Linked DNA regions of Homo sapiens: region 2 is linked to region 1. Evidence: fine-mapped expression QTL. Tissue or cell type: whole blood. Region 1 holds a variant in brackets; the other region holds the start of a gene. All regions are shown on one strand. Distances are between the middles of the regions.

Region 1 (8,263 bases):
GGCCACTACCTCTGATGAATACTGATGCAAAAGTCCTCAACAAAATACTTACAAACCAAATTCAACAATACATTAAAAGGGCCATTCATCATGACCAAGCAGGACTTATCCTTGAGATGCAAGGATGGTTCAATGTATGCAAATCAATCAATGTGATATCGACAAAATGAAGGATAAAAACCATATGATCATTTCAATTAATGCTGAAAAAGCATTTGATAAAATTCACATCCCTTCATGATTAAAAACCCTCAAAAGACTGGGTATAGTTCTCCTAGTACTATGTAGCTAGAGCAACCAGACAAGAGAAAGAAATAAAGGGGGTCCAAATTGGAAAGAAAGAGGTCAGGTCAGGTGCGGTGGCTCACGCCTGTAATCCCAGCACTTTGGAAGGCCAAGGCAGGCGGATCACTTGAGGTCAGGAGTTCCAGACAAGCCTGGCCAACATGGTGAAACCCCATCTCTATTAAAAATACAAAAAAATTAGCCAGGCAGGGCGGCAGGTGCCTGTAATCCCAGCTACTCAGGAGGCTGAGGCAGGAGAATCACTTGAACCCAGGAGGCAGAGGTTGCAGTGAGCTGAGATCACGCCACTGCACCCCAGCCTGGGCGACAGTGTCGTGAGACTCCATCTCAAAAAAAAAAAAGAAAGAGGTCAAATTATCCTTGTTTATAGATTACATGATCTCATATTTAGAAAAACCTACAGACTCCACACAAAAGTCTATTAGAACTGATAAATAAATTTAGTAAAGTTGCAAGATACAAAAACATACAAAAATCAATAGCATTTCTATATGCCAACACTGAACAATCTGAAAAAGAAATCTAAAAAGTAAACCCATTTACAAATAAAACTAAATTAATAGGAATTAACCAAAGTGAAAAATCTCTACAATGAAAACTATACAACACTGATGAAAGAAACTGAAGAGGATGCCCCAAAAATGGAAAGCTATTTCATGTTCATAGGCTAGAAGAATCAATATTATTTAAAATGTCCATACTATCCAAAGCAATCTAGAGTCAATGCAATCTCTATCAAAATACCAATGACAGCCCACTAGCAGGGTGGCCATAGTGCCATCTGCCTCGTGTAGGGCCCGCTTCTCTGACCAGCAGACCCATGGATTACCACCTGATGCAAGCCCCTCCCACTGAGGCAGCCTCGCTGAGCCCATCGCAGCTGAGGTATCCTGGAGAGATCTTCACCCGTGTCCCATGTGGAAGATCAGTTGGCACCATTTCTGCTGGAGCTTTAATATTTTTCTTCTTCCTGATTATAATACTTATTTTCTGTAGCTTTAGCCAAGCTCCTGGGAAACACCTCTTTTGTCCTTGTTGGGTGTAGAGGCCATGCTAAGGCCCAACGGAACACCATGTTGTCACTGTTCATCCTGTTTGCTCTCCTAATCACCTTGGTCCAGTATGGGTGGGAACACAACTCTATAATAAATATTTCGACAAGTATTGCATCAGGGAATCATCTTCATGGCTGCTGGATTGTCATGAACATTCCCAGGATAGAGAGTTCTGTCTTCTGGCTTACCTAAGAAACCTCACTACCATCCCCGCTGACCTCCTAAAATAGTGATCTTCAAATCCCAAACTCCTACTTGTTGAATGGAACTCTCCCCCACTTAACGGATTCCACTTGAACCCCCTGCCAACATTACCTGGACCTGGGAAATTGGGTATCTATATCTCTAGCGCACTAATGATTCTATCTTTTGCATTCACTGTTGTGTTCATGACACAAGAGTGGAAGCCTCCCTGTGATGCTCTGATTCAACTTTAGTTGCCACATTCCCAAGGCCACAGCAAGGTAAATGGGATTCTACTTGTAAGTGAGGAGACCACATATGGTGCCTTCTGGATCAGAACATATAAGGGAAAAACAACTGCCTAGTCTGGGAAGGTGGGAGTACTGCCCCCTTCCAGAAAACAAAGGGTGTCCCGCCACCCCCATCGGAACAGGGGAAAAATATCTCTCTAGACACAATTTCACAGTAAAGCATAAATACCACATCCCAATAGGGCTTCTGTTTGTGCCCCAACCGGCTCATTTTTGTTTGTGGCATGAATGGGAAGAAGTTACAACCTGAACTGCTCCCAACTCCCTAGGAAGTCACCTTTTCCCTTAGGAGTAGCTTTCCCTTGTATATCAAAAACTTGGAACAGAGGTGAATGTATGCTGGCCACTCTTGCCCCTCCAGGAGTCACTGTCTATAACCGCATAACACCCAAGAATACCAGAAGTAAGTGAGTAATAGGAGTAATTCTGGCAGGAATTGGCAGTGATAGGACTAGCAGCACCCCGGGGCAGCTTTGCCTACCATGAGCCAACTCTAATGAACTTGACTCAATCCCTAGAATCCTTAGCCACCAACACAGGTCAGGCATTAAAGGGAATTCAAGAGTCCTTAGGCTCTTTGGCAAATGCAGTTCTCATTAACAGACTAGCATTGGATTATTTACTAGCTGAACATGGTGGAGTCTGTGTAGTTATTAATAAAACCTGCTGCACATATTTTAACAACTCTAGGCAAGTTGAGATTAACATTCAAAAGATCTATGAACAAGCTACCTGGTTACACAGATATAACCAGGGCACTGACCCCAACTATAGCTGGTCAATTATCAAGTGCTTTCCCAAGTCTCACCTGGTTTTTACCTCTCATAGAACCTTGGATAGTTATCTTCTTGTTTCCAATTTTTGGCCCTTGCTTATTTAACCTCTTAGTAAAAGTTTGTGTTTTCTAGATTACAACAGTTCCAGGTAAAAAACAATGCTGGCACAAGGCTTCCAACCTATCCCATCTACTGACCTGGAGAATGAAAGTGTCCTGCCTGTGGGCCCGTTACAACAGGTATCCAGAGATTTTTTTACTCCTCCAGTGCTAGGCAGGGCCTATGGCCATGAGCTCAGCAGCAAGCAGTTACAGAAGACTGGCCTTCACCCTTCTGCAGCCCTCTTAATATTAAGGAGGAGGATCTAATTTCTGAGGGGAAAATGAGGTAGGAGGCAGGACTTGACTCCAGAGGTGGGGCTCAGATTGAGGACTCCAGAGGTGGGGATCAGATTGAGGACTAGCTAAAATAGGGCCAGGGCGAAAGCACCTTTCAATCAGACCTGTCCATCAATGTGCCATGTCAATCTACTGTTGCC[G/A]AGGCAACACCTGGGAGTTACTGGCCTTTTCCATGGCATCTAATGATCCAAAAGTTACTATCCCTTTCCTGCATAAACTGCCCCTTAATCTCATGCAATTAAAAGTGGGTATAAATGTGACTGTAAAACTGTCCTGAGCTGCTACTCTCTGCCTACAGGGTAGCTCTGCTCTGCAGGAGCAGTCACAGAGCTATAACACCACTGGAGCTGTAACACTGCCTGTTCAATAAAGCTGTTTTCTTCTAAAAAGGAATTACCAATGACATTCTTCATGGAAATAGAAAAAACAATCCTAAAATTTACATGGAGCCATGAAAGACCCCGAATAGCTAAAGCTATCTTAAGCAAAAAGAACAAAACGGAAGGAATCACATTACCTGACTTCAAATTATACTACAGAGCTATAGTAACCAAAACAGCATGATACTGGCATAAAAACAGACACATAGACCATCAGAACACAATAGAGAACCCAGAAACAAATCCACAAACTCATAGTGAACTCACTTTCAACAAAGGTGCCAAGAACATAAGCTGAGGAAAAGACTTCAATAAATAATGCTGGGAAAACTGGATATCCATATGCAAAAGAGTGAAACTAGACCCCTACCTCTCACCATATATAAAAATAAAATCAAAATGGATTAAAGACTTAAATCTAAGCCCTCAAACTATGAAACTACTACAAGAAAACATCGAGGAAACTCTCTGGACAAATGGGATCATATCAAGTTAAAAAGATTCTGCACAACAAAGGAAACAACAAAGTGAAGACATGGCTGGGCGTGGTAGCTCACACCTGTAATTCCAGCACTTTGGGAGGCTGAGGCAGGTGGATCACGAGGTCAGGAGTTCAAGACCAGCCTGGCCAACATGGTGAAACCCTGTCTCTACTAAAAATACAAAAATTAGCCAGGTGTAGTTATGTGCGCCTCTAATCCCAGCTATTTGGGAGGCTGAGGGAGGAGAATTGCTTGAACCCAGGCAGCGGAGGTTGCAGTGAGCTGAGATGGCACCACTGCATTCTATCCTGGGTGACAGAGTGAGACTCTGTCTCAAAACAAACAAACAAACAAACAAAAACCCACAGAAAATATTTGCAAACTACCCATCTGACGAGGGATTAATAACCAGAATATATAAGGAGCTCAAACAACTCTACAGGAAAAAACCTAATAATCAGATTATAAAATGGGCAAAAGATTTGAACAGACATTTCTCAAAAGAAGACATACAAATGGCAAACAGGCATATGAAAAGGTGCTCAACACCACTGATCATCAGAGAAACGTAAACCCAAACTACAACGAGATATCTCACTCCAGTTAAAATGGCTTTTATCCAAAAGACAGGCAATAACAAATGCTGGCAAGGATGTGGAGAAAAAGGGACCCTTGTACACTGTTGGTGGGAATGTAAACTAATGTGCAACCACTATGGAGAACAGTTTGGAGGTTCCTCAAAAAACTAAAAATAGAGCTACCATATGATCCAGGAATCTCACTGCTGGGTATATACCCAAAAGAAAGGAAATCATTATATCAAAGAGATACCTGCACTCCTATGTTTGTTGCAGCACTGTTTACAATTGCCAAGATTTGGAAGCTACCTAAGTGTCCATCAACAGAAGAATGGATAAAGAAAATGTGGTACATATACACAATGGAATACTATTCAGCCATAAAAAAGAATGAGATCCAGTCATTTGCAACAACATGGATGGGACTGGAGGTCATTATGCTAAGTGAAATAAGCCAGGCACAGAAAGACAAACATAACATGTTCTCATTTATTTGTGAGATCTAAAAATCAAAACAAATAAAATCATGGAGACGAGAGTAGAAGGATGGTTACCAGAAACTGGGAAGGGTAGTGAGGGTTAAAGGAGGGTGGTGAGGATGGTTAATAGGCACAAAAAAAAAGAAAAAATGAGTAAGACCTCGTATTTGATAGAACAAGAGGGCAACTATAGTCAATAATAATTGTACCTTTTAAAATAAAAGTGTATAATTGGATTGTAACACACAGAATAACTGCTTGAGGAGATGGATACCCTATTTTATATGATGTGATAATTTCACATTGCTTGCCTGTACCAAAATATCTCAGGTACCTCATAAAGATACACACCTACTATGTACCCACAAAAATTAAAGCAAACAAAAAAATTCCTCTGCCTACCTTGTACTTCTTTTAGGACATATGTTGTATTTTTATTTCCTCTTATGTTCCTTGTAGTTTACTCACTTCTGAAATTATTTTTCTTTCATTGCTTTCCTCAGCCCTTCTTTCCTCAGCTCTGTTGCATCATGTTTTTTTCTAATTCTGATTTATGAGCTCTTTCATGTCTTGTATCATTTTCTTAATGTCTTTTAGCTTTTTTTTTTTTTTTTTTTTTTTTTGAGACAAGGTCTTGCTCTGTTGCCCAGGCTGGAGTGCAGTGGTGCAATCTTGGCTCACTGCAGCCTCTGCCTCCCAGGCTCAAGCAATCTTCCCACCTCAGCCTCCCAGGTAGCTAGGATTACAGGTGTGTGCCACTATGCCCAGCTAATTTTTGTATTTTTTGTAGAGATGGGGTTTGCCATGTTGCCCAGGCTTCTTTTAGCTTATTTTGATATAGACTGTTACAGTTTTGATCTACAGTTGACCCTTAAACAATGCGGGGGGTTAGGGACACCAACCCCTCGGAGCAGTCAAAAATCCACATATAACTTTTGACTCCCCAGTGACTTAACTACTAATAGTCTGCAATGGACTAGATGCCTTATCAATAACATAAATAGTCGATTACATATATTTGGTGTGTTACATGTATTGTATACTGTATCCTTACAATAAAATAAGCTAGAGAAAATAAAATGTTATAAAGAAAATCATAAGGAAGAGAAAATATATCTACTATTCATTAAGTGGAAGTGGATCATCATAACAGTCTTCATCCTTGTCACACTGAGTAGGCTGAGGAGGAGGAAGAGAAGGAGTTGGTCTTGCTGTCTCAGGGTGGCAGAGGCAGAGAGGTGGACGAGGTAGAAGGGGAGGCAGGAAAGGTGGTCACACTCAGTGTTAACTTTACGGAAATACATTATAATTTGTTTGACTTTTTGCTTTTTCATTTCTCTAGCAATGTTTCCATACAGTATCAATCCTTATTCCACTCTTTGCTTTAGTTTCATTGCTCTTATCATAAAAGGGTCTATGTTGTAAAAGAAGTCAAAAGTAGTCTTGAGTAACTGGAACCCTTCCGCCAGATTGTCTAGTGTCAGTTTGTTTCCTGACACTGCTCCTTCTACGTCTTCTTCCTCATGATCTGGCACTGGTTCGGAGGCACTCATCTCTATCAACTCATCTTTGAATGCCTCTGCTGTGGTATATATTAGGCCTTGAATTTCTCCAAGATCCATATCTTGACAACGTTCACCCCTCATCTTTTTTGCCATATCCACAAATCTCTTTGATGATTTCCTTGATGGGCTCTGTCATAAATCCCGTGAAGTCAAGCACAACATCTGGGCACAATTTTCTCCAGCGGAAACTTGTTTTGAGCTTGATGGCTTTCATGGCTTTTTCTATAACGACAATAGCATCTTGAATGGTATAATCCTTCCAGACTTTCATGACGTTCTTTCTATTGGGGTTCTCTTCCATAATGTTGACAATCCTTTCCATAGAGTACCATGTGTAATCAGCCTTAAAGGTCCTTATGACCCCCTGACTAGAGGCTGAATTAGACATGTTGTGTTTGGGGACTAGTAGACCACTTTGATGCCTTTGGTGTTGAACTCATGGTGTTCTGGTGGCCAGGGGCATCATTGTTCAATATCAAAAGAACTTTTTAAAAGGTAGTCCCTTACTGGCAAGGTACTTCCTAACTTCAGGGAGAATGTATTGATGTAACCAATCTAGAAAAAGGGTTCTCATTGTCCAGGCCTTTTTGTACAACCAAAAGGCTGGCAGTTGGTGTTTAGGTTAGCAGCTTTATGGTTAGGAGCAGTCTGGATCATAAACCCAACTGCATTGGCACACAACAGTACAGTTAGCCTATTCCTTCCTGCCTTAAATGATAGTGCTTGCTTCTCTTACTAATAAATGTCTTTTGTGGCTTTTTTTTTTTTTTTTTTTGAGACAAGAGTCTTACTCTGTCTCCTAGGCTGGAGTGCAGTGGCGTGATCTCGGCTCACTGCAACCTCTGCCTCCCGAGTTCAAGTGATTCTCCTGCCTCAGTCTCCCAAGTAGCTGGGATTACAGGCACCTGCCATCACTCCCAGCTAAATTTTATATTTTCAGTAGAGACAGGGTTTCACCATGTTGGCCAGGCTGGTCTTGAACTCCTGACCTCAGGTGATCCACCCGCCTCAGCCTCCCAAAGTGCTGGGATTACAGGTGTGAGCCACTGCGCCTGGCCTTTTTGTGGCTTTTTTTTTTTTTTTTCCAGAATAGGTCACTTTTGTCTGCCATAAAACTTGTTCAGGTAGATATCCTTTTTCTTCTCATTTTGTTAATGACATCTTGGAATTTATCTTCTGCCTCTTGGTCAGAAGAAGCTGCTTCTCCTGTTATCTGGACATTTTTAAAGCCAAACTTTTTTCTAAAATTATCAAACCATCTTTTGCTGGAATTAAATTATCCAGTTTTAGATCTTTTACCTTCCTTTTGCTTTAAGTTGTCATATAATAGCTTTGATTTTTCTCAAATCATATTAGAGTCTACAGGTCTGCCTTTCTTATAGCCATCCTGTGCCCACATAAAAGCTGCATTTTCAATACAAGACAAAAAAGGTATTTTGCAGGCTAGGCTTGGTGGCTCACACTTGTAATCCCAATGACTCAGAAGGCCAACTCAGGAGGACCACTTGAGCCCAGGAGTTGGAGACCAGCTTGGACAACAGAGCAAGACCCCATCTCTACAAATCTTTTTTTTAAAATTAGCCAGCGTGGTGGCATGCACCTGTAGTCCTAGTTACCTGGGAGGTTGAGGCAGGAGGATCCCTTAAGCCCAGGAGTTTAAGGTTACCATGAGCTATGATCACGCCATTGCACTTTAGCCTGGACGACAAAGTGAGATCCTGTCTCTTAAAAAAAAAAAAAAGAAAAAAAA
Region 2 (8,000 bases), 30 kb before region 1:
ATCCCATTTTATGACCTAAAAAAAAGAGACACTTCTATAACAAAAAAGTTAATTTGGCCCAATTTAGTTAATACCTTAAAGAGCTTTTTGAAATTTATGTAGTGATATAATTTCTAGAACTATTAAAATTTTTACCAAATAAAAAAACTTATGGTTTGTTTTTACTTAAAAAAAAAACCGCCAAAACAACTAGATTGTTTTACTGATAAGTGCAACCACTTTACATTAAAAAACAATTAAAATAATGTATGCAGTAATATGGTTCTAATAAGAATCTTATTGAATTTCAATGTACGTCCCTTTAGCGCTCTACCTCTTGTATTAACAAAAGCACAGGAAGTCAACTCTCCCTACCTCTTTCTTCTCTACACCTAAGCATCCAACAGTTTCATAAGGTCTCTTTATATTTCATGTTGCAGGACACAGTTTTCAACACAACCTTCACTCACAGCTAATTCCAGTGTATTAAAGTACTCTCAATCCTTAGAACAGGCTTTAAAAAAAGCCAGGTGAGGAAGCACGCATCTGTAGTCTTGGCTACTAGGGAGGCCAAGGTTGGAGGATTGCTTGAGCCTAGGATTTCAAGACCAACCTGGGTAACACAGGAGACTCCATCTCATAAAAAACAAACGACTGAGCTTTAATTATCAAGTCTTAAGGAATCTAAAGGGAGGATGGGAGACAAAAAGAGATTTTCAGGGGGAGTGCGAGGCAACTGGCACTTTAAAGGAGTACTGGATTTGCAAAATAAATAGTGCACAATATCCTAAATGTCCTACATAACTTTCAAGTGTTCAAGAATTACTGTATTTTAAAATGCTATAACAAAACAGTTTTGCATCCCCAAAGTTTCTTACCTTTACATTCTATCCAAAAGCAGGTAGTATTAACAACGCTAACATTAAAACAGGAAACGCAGCTGTTTCGACCTTCACAGGTTTCTGGGGAGTTGGGGGGAGAGATGCATGAAATCAATGATTTTATTAGTATCTTATTTGAATCTGTATTACTTATCTTTTTGAACAATAAGCATTACATACAGCATCAAAATTACTAATTCAGATAAATGATAAAACTTTATACTGGTTTACTAAGAAATTCCAATCATTACAAAGCTGTAAGTAAACGCATTAGAAAAACAAGCTAGTGGTCACTCTCAGTACAGTGCCTGATGGTATCTGTCTAACCAATCCTTTTTCACAGGACAACTATTGGAAGACACCCACAGCCACTAAGGATTTAGGCATTTCAAAGCATCCTTAATACATAAAAATATCGAGAAAAAGGCTTTGATATAATACCAACACTACACATAGGAAAACCACTACCCCCAAACATCAGATAAAACCCTGAGATTTTTAGTAGTAACAGTAGTAGTTTAACAGGTTGAACCCAAGCACTGATGATGCCCATTCTGCTGCAAACAAAGATAATTTCCCAGGGATTCTCGATTCATAAATGATCCACTCTCGACAGGATCCTCCACAACTGGAGACAACATCTAAAAGCCCATATTCAAGTGCATACAATTCAGGTTAACAAGGTATTTGTCAATAGTTCATCCTAGGCCAAACAATCCAGAAACAAGTACTCATCACCATAATTCAATTTCTGGAGAAGAACGGACTATAAAATTGGGCTCTATTTTCCAGTGAGAAAAAGCAGCAAAATAAAAGAAAAAAAAGAATTGGGCTCCATTCATTTTCCTAGAAACTAGATGCCTCCAAACATTCTCGTTTGCTTTGCTCCTGCCTAAAAAATAGTTCTGCAGAGGCACTGCTTTCAATACTTCATCATTAGTACTTATTAAAGACTGGGACATGTACGGTGGGGTGGGGAAGGGTTCATAAAGTAAAAATAAATTTTCTGAAGTTTGTATAGATAAAACATGCTGTTTAAAAACCTTTGTGCTTGACGGGTGTAGCAAAGTGAAATGTCTGAAATGTTCTTTACAATGAACTAAACTTGCTACCTTTCAGACCACACTACATCCACTTATGATTTCCAGAAAATACATACCTCCTTTGCACGCACTTCAATTACACAAAGACAAATTAATTTGATACTTCCAACCTTCTCTTACACACACACTACAATTCTGAAAGGAAACTGTCAAATTAAGACTGAGACAAACATATTCTGCTCTATCATCTTAAAATAGTGCGGTTAGAATTCCCAGTATTATACTGCAATTTACTTCCCTCGTTTTGAAATGTTACCATTACATCTTCCTTAAACTAAAAACAAAACATTAAGTTTACTATATACTTTATTAAACTTTTATAAAATACTAAAACTAGAGGAGAATTTGTAGAATATGAATGCCGTGATAAAAATCATTACACTTCGGCATTCTTCGGTCAAGAAGCCAATGTTAACTACGTAAACATTACTCCTTAACTAATGTTAACTAGAATAACCAATCATACGAGACTGCAGGTTTTAAACCTCTAGTGTTTCTCCCGCTTATTACCTCAAACTTATCTTCCTTCTCTCTTTTGTGTTGTCACGGTATATGGCAATTTCTGCTTTAAAATGTATGTATGCCTTAACCAGCCCTATGCGACTGCACATAACAAAAGACACGCTCCTGATCGGGTTTTAGAAAACCCACAGACCTGGGCACAAACCCCCGTTCCACGACCTACTAAACATACGCTATCTGAGCACAGGACATAGTTAAGAAAATTTTAAAAACAATTGAAAAAAGAATAAACATACAATGTCAGGAGAGTTTACTCATCTCCGTCTCTGCATCTACCTCCTAGGTTTCACTACCTACCTTCCAGTTTAGCCTTAGGATACGTACGCAAAACACCCGGTACATACATGGGTACTTTTCTTCCTTTTCGCATACTTTGAAGTGTGAAGTTTTCACTAACTACGTGCTCAAACGTCAGCTACATTCTATTCCTATCTGCAAAACCAATGTAATTAAATCTCAAGCGACCTTCTCAGACTCAAGTCTGAGACACGAACGAGCATTACCGTCTTTAAGTTTCTCTTTCCCGGACTTCCGGAGAAGGCTACCTCCGGAGAGAGGCGCCGGGAGGGTGAACAACCAGTGGCAGGGAGAGGCAGCTCGGCCCCACCGCCAACCTCAGAGGCGCGACGCCCGGCCCCATCCTCAACCCCACCGCTGCCCCCGCGGAAGGAAGCCACGTCCCCATTTCCGACCCCAAGTGAGGCTAGGAATTACGATGCACTTTTAAAAGGCACCTCGACTTGCAACACTTCGAGGGGGGCCCCAGCCCCGCAGCCACTGGGAACCGCGCGTCCGCTTCCCCCCAGCGCGCTCCCCACCCGGCCCGGCCACGAGTGGACTCCAGGCTGGCCGCCATGTTGCCGGAGTCGCCGCCGCACCCCGAGCGCGGCCCGCCCGCCCGACCGTGGCCCGAACCCGGGCCCCGCCCGCACGGCGAGGAGGCAGTGCGGCTCGGCTGGGCAGGGGAGGGCGGGAAGCCCACAGGGCCCGCGCCCACCTGGTGCCGGAGTGGTGACCAGCGGGAGGGACGTCACCGGCGCCGAGGTTACGTTGGAGATGGGCGCTAAAGTCGTCACGTTCGGGTGCTGGGTCGTGTTCTTGTCCGCGGACAGCACGCAGAGCACGCCCAGGCAGGTGGCGGCCCAAAGCAGTGAGCGGGAGAGCCGCGACATCGTGTCCTCAGCGCTGGCGTTCGGGAGAAAGCTAAGGCTCGCAACGCTCAGTCAACCCCTCAATCCCCTGCGGCGCCGCCTCCGAGACTACGCTCCCCCGCGGGAGCGCGCAGGGGTCACGTGAGAGGCCCCTGTTTTCGGCGTGCGGGGGCGAAGAGGAGGGAGGTGGGGCTCGGACGATACCAACGGGAATCCTACGGGGGGAAGCAGGGGAGTCGGGAGGAAGCCGAAGGAACCTGGCCCTCAAAGCGACTGTGCCACAGCCAAGAAAACTGGGAGCTTCTGCAAATCGTTCTTCTTGCCCTCAGATTACCAGACACGACGCAGCTGGACTTGTCTCATGCCTGCGATAGGGACGGCCCCCACCCTGACTTGCATGGAACAGTCGACATAATGTGGCCTACTGCTTCCACCTGAGCGCCCCGCCAGGCTGTAATTCCGCGGGCCCACGTGACCTCCGGGGCCGCGCCTTCCGGACGCAACTCCACTGGGGCGGAAGTTGGTTTTGTGCGGCTCTCAAGAACTAAGTTTGTGCTGTGCTGCGGGATCCCCAGGGAGCTTCCTTATATCTTCGGCAGGACCCCTTCTTTTTTTCTTGAAGATTGATTTTGCTAGAAGTTATCCTGTGATGGGACTCCCTAGGGGAATGGAGGCACCACGTGGTTAAGGAGTTTGTGCGTTGCCGCCCACATAGTGTGGGCAGCTGAGGCGCCGCCCGGATCAGAGCCGCAGGGCGTCTACTCTGTCACTTTCCCAACCTGACTTTTCCGGATTGCTATTTCAGACGGCGGTTGCAGCAGCCGACCTGTCTCAACTCCACCACTGTAGTCAGAGAATCAAAAGCGGTCTGAGTTGCGAGGTCATTGGGGAGGCCCCCACCCCCACATTACCAGTGAGGAAACTGAGACTTAAAAAAGTGACCTGACCTGGACACGGGATTGCCTGACATCAGAGCTGGATTCTTAAGTTCCTGTTAGTGTTAAGGCGCTGCTCAGACTTTTAGTAAAGGTGAGCGCCATCTACTGCCAAGTCTCACAAAATATTCGCAAAATTTGATACGGTTATCACATGGTAAAAATTAGACTTTAAAAGTTGTATTTAATGCTGTGTTTTCAGCTGTTGTACACTTATGTAATTTTAATTATGCAAAGTTATCCTAATAATATAGGAATATTAATTGCTTTCGTGAGGTCTGTCTTGATGTGCCACGATGACTTTTTTGATGTGCCAAAAAAGATGACTACATAGTGCTTTTACCTTTTTGCTCAAATAGAAAGATTTTATTTCCCCTTGGGATCTTTTCAGTGTCGTCCTTCTGTACCCTCAGGACTATGAACATTTGTTCCAATGACTACGCTAGTTGGAGTAGTGTTGCTTGGATGTAAACAAAAAGCTGATAGTTTTGACTGATCCAGCCCAGAAGCATGAGAATGCTGTCAGGGAAGTGAGCTCCCACCATAAGCCCTTCAGAGAAGTGTCTGCTCTTCTCTCAGGAGGCCTCTCTCTATATTTAACACTTGACTATCTGGCACCCAGACCAAATGAAAGCGCAAGGCAACTTTAATTTTTTTTTAAGGTTAAGAATGTAAATAGGGGCCGGACGCGGTGGCTCACGCCTGTAATGCCAGCACTTTGGGAGGCCAAGGCGGGTGGATCACCTGAGGTCCGGAGTTTGAGACCAGCTTGGCCAACATGGTGTAAACCCCGTCTCTCCTAAAAATACAAAAATTAGCCGGGCATGGTGGCACGTGCCTGTAATCCCAGCTACTAGCAGGGCTGAGGCAGGAGGATCGCTTGTATCCGGGAGGCGGAGGTTGCAGTGAGCCGAGATCACACCACTGCACTCCAGCTTGGGGAACAGAGCCAGACTCGTCTCAAAAAAAAAAAAAAAAAAAAAAATGTAAATAGAAGCTCTGTTCTCAGAGCTTGGTGTGTTATCTTCTTTCCACCCTAGGATAAACACACTCCTCTGTGCAGACCATTGTTTAACAATTTGTCACCTGGATGTTTAACTCTAGTCCTCAGATATTCCTCAGTCCTGATAAAGGGACATTTCACGCTCTTGTTTTAAGACTAGAAAACCATTGGTTTATTTTATTTTGCATGGCAACTGTAGAGGTAGATCAAGGGAGTTCCAAAGTCATTTTCACCATTTCAGAGAGACAGCTTTTTTTTTTTCAGTTCCTGACAGTAAGCTTCTGTTTATTGTTGTCATAGAGCAGGGTTTCTCAATCTTGGCGCTATCAAGATTTCAGGCTGACTCATTCTTGCTTGTCCTGTGCATTGTTGGATATTCGGCAGTATTCGTAGCCTCTACACACTAGATACCAGAAGCACCCCACCTCTCAGTTGTGACAACCAAAAATATCTCCCGATATTGTTAAATGTCTCCTGGGGGTAAAATCACAATTGAAAGGCACCCTCAGAGCGTTCTTCTGTGTGCAAGGTCAGCCATCACTCAGGTTATTTCCTCTTAGACACATTGCTTGCAATTAGATTGTCGATTGGTTGTTAGAGCGACCTTCTTAACCATTTATTTTCTTGAAAGCAGCAAGACAGAGTGCTTCTGCGCTTGTGAATCTTCTAGCAGTATAAGCTCCCTCTAAGTTTTTTAAACAGCAGATTTTTAAACAATGCTTCAGCCTTGTGTCAGTACCTTTCCCCAAATAAACAGATCAACACTCCAAACAGGACCCTGCCTTCTAGCTATAACTAACATCCAGTGGCCCCTTAATAATCAGAGGTTTGCCTCCACTACTTGATAGCAAGAAGTACAAACCCCCTTGTACTAGCTTATGTTAAAGGGAATCCATTCACTGTAAGAATATGACAGTAAATCTTATAGGCATTCAGGGGTGGGAAATCAAGTGTGTGAGGGCCAAGGGAGACTTGAACTTAAAAGGAGGAATCCCTAGCACGTGGAGCTGGTTTGCTAGGACTTCGTTTCAGGCTTCAACCCTACAGGACATTGCCAGATCTATAGACCCACAGCCAATCATCTCCATTGCCCAGTATTCCAGTTATATAGCTCTTGGAAGAGATAACTTGACTGAGTACCATGCCTTCCCAACCTGTCTGTTACCTACTCTCTGCTCTGACTCCATCCATGCAGTCTACACTAGAGCTCCCTGAACTTCCAGTTCTCCTAACTGGTCATGTTTTCTTTTGCATGTGGATCTTCATCCATGCTATTTCTTCTGCCTAGAACATTCTTATTCCCTTCTGGCATCTGACCAACTCCTACTTGTTTGAGGTCTCTCAGCTAAGCTGTCACTCCCATCTTAAGCTATCCTTAAAATATTCAACTACCCCTTTCTCCCCACTCCCAGACTACAAAAGGTGTTCCTGCTCTGTGCACCCTGGACTTGCCCATAACAAAGCATATACTGCATTATATAGCAGTTGTCTTTCTCACTAGATTAACTCAGAAATAGTGCTCACCAGTTTATTCCCTGCACTTAATTAAAAAAAAATGAATAAATGAACAAACTGGCTTATTTCAGTCAGTTGTCCACCCTTGCCAAAAATTAGCTGCATTAAAAAGCACAGGAGGAGCCCGGCGTAGTGGCAAGCACCTGTAATCACAGCTACTTGGGAGGTTGAGGCAGAAGAATCTATTGAACCCAGGAGGCAGAGGTTGCAGTGAGCCGAGATTGCATCACTGCCCTCCAGCCTGGGCAACAGAGTGAGACTCTGCCTCAAAAAAAAAAAAAATAAATAAATAAAATAAATAAAATAAAAGCGTAGGAGGGCAGCTGCTACAAATAACTCCCTGAACTCTTCAGCTGTGGGTCAGGGTAGATTCATCTAGAGGAGTATGGGTGGGAAACAAGGGCTGGCATCTGTAAGACAGTTTTAACAGCATATATTAAAGCTCATTTAGTAGTATTTGAATCTGTTTTGACAAAGAGAAGGATTGGAATAAATCAAATATTAGCTAAAACTGTATATTCAGAGTCTTAATATTGTGATTAAGATTAAGGGTAAAATTCTGGAGATATTGTCATTAGGAGGCTCTCCACTTTGACTGTGGATGTTTCTTTGAAAAGTGTGCCAGGGCGCCAGAGGGGAGCATTACACTTTAGAGCAGTTGTTCTTAACCCTGGCTGCACATTGGAACTACCTAGTGACATCAGTGGTGGTGGTGTGTGTTGAAAAATATTGATACTAGTGCCTGGGTACTGATTTAATTGGTCTGGAGTAATGTCTGAGCATCAGCAGTTTTAAAAGCTTCCCAGGTGTTTCTAATCTGCAGCTTAGGTGGAAAACCAGTGCTTTACTCTTGCTTTCCAGAGTGTGGTTCTCAAACCATTATCATTTATATCACCTAGAAATGCAGAACC

The links. PIP is the estimated chance that this variant, and not a neighbour inherited with it, causes the effect.
Region 2: CD164 starts here. The variant in region 1 is fine-mapped to the expression of CD164 in whole blood (TOPMed, PIP 0.91).

Annotation. Positions count from the first base shown.
Region 1 is chr6:109,408,932-109,417,194 of GRCh38, forward strand. The region is part of intron 6 of PPIL6 (peptidylprolyl isomerase like 6); the gene reads right to left. Among named protein-coding and RNA genes, the nearest start is that of PPIL6, 28 kb to the right of the region's middle. The variant G/A (reference allele first, on the strand shown) is at 3,170.
Region 2 is chr6:109,378,722-109,386,721 of GRCh38, forward strand. It overlaps CD164 (CD164 molecule), which reads right to left and starts at 3,746. Exons shown (of 6, transcript NM_006016.6): 1 at 3,483-3,746; 2 at 858-941. The coding sequence starts at 3,657. RefSeq lists a silencer at 3,204-3,483 and enhancers at 3,639-4,148, 3,704-4,053, 4,134-4,363.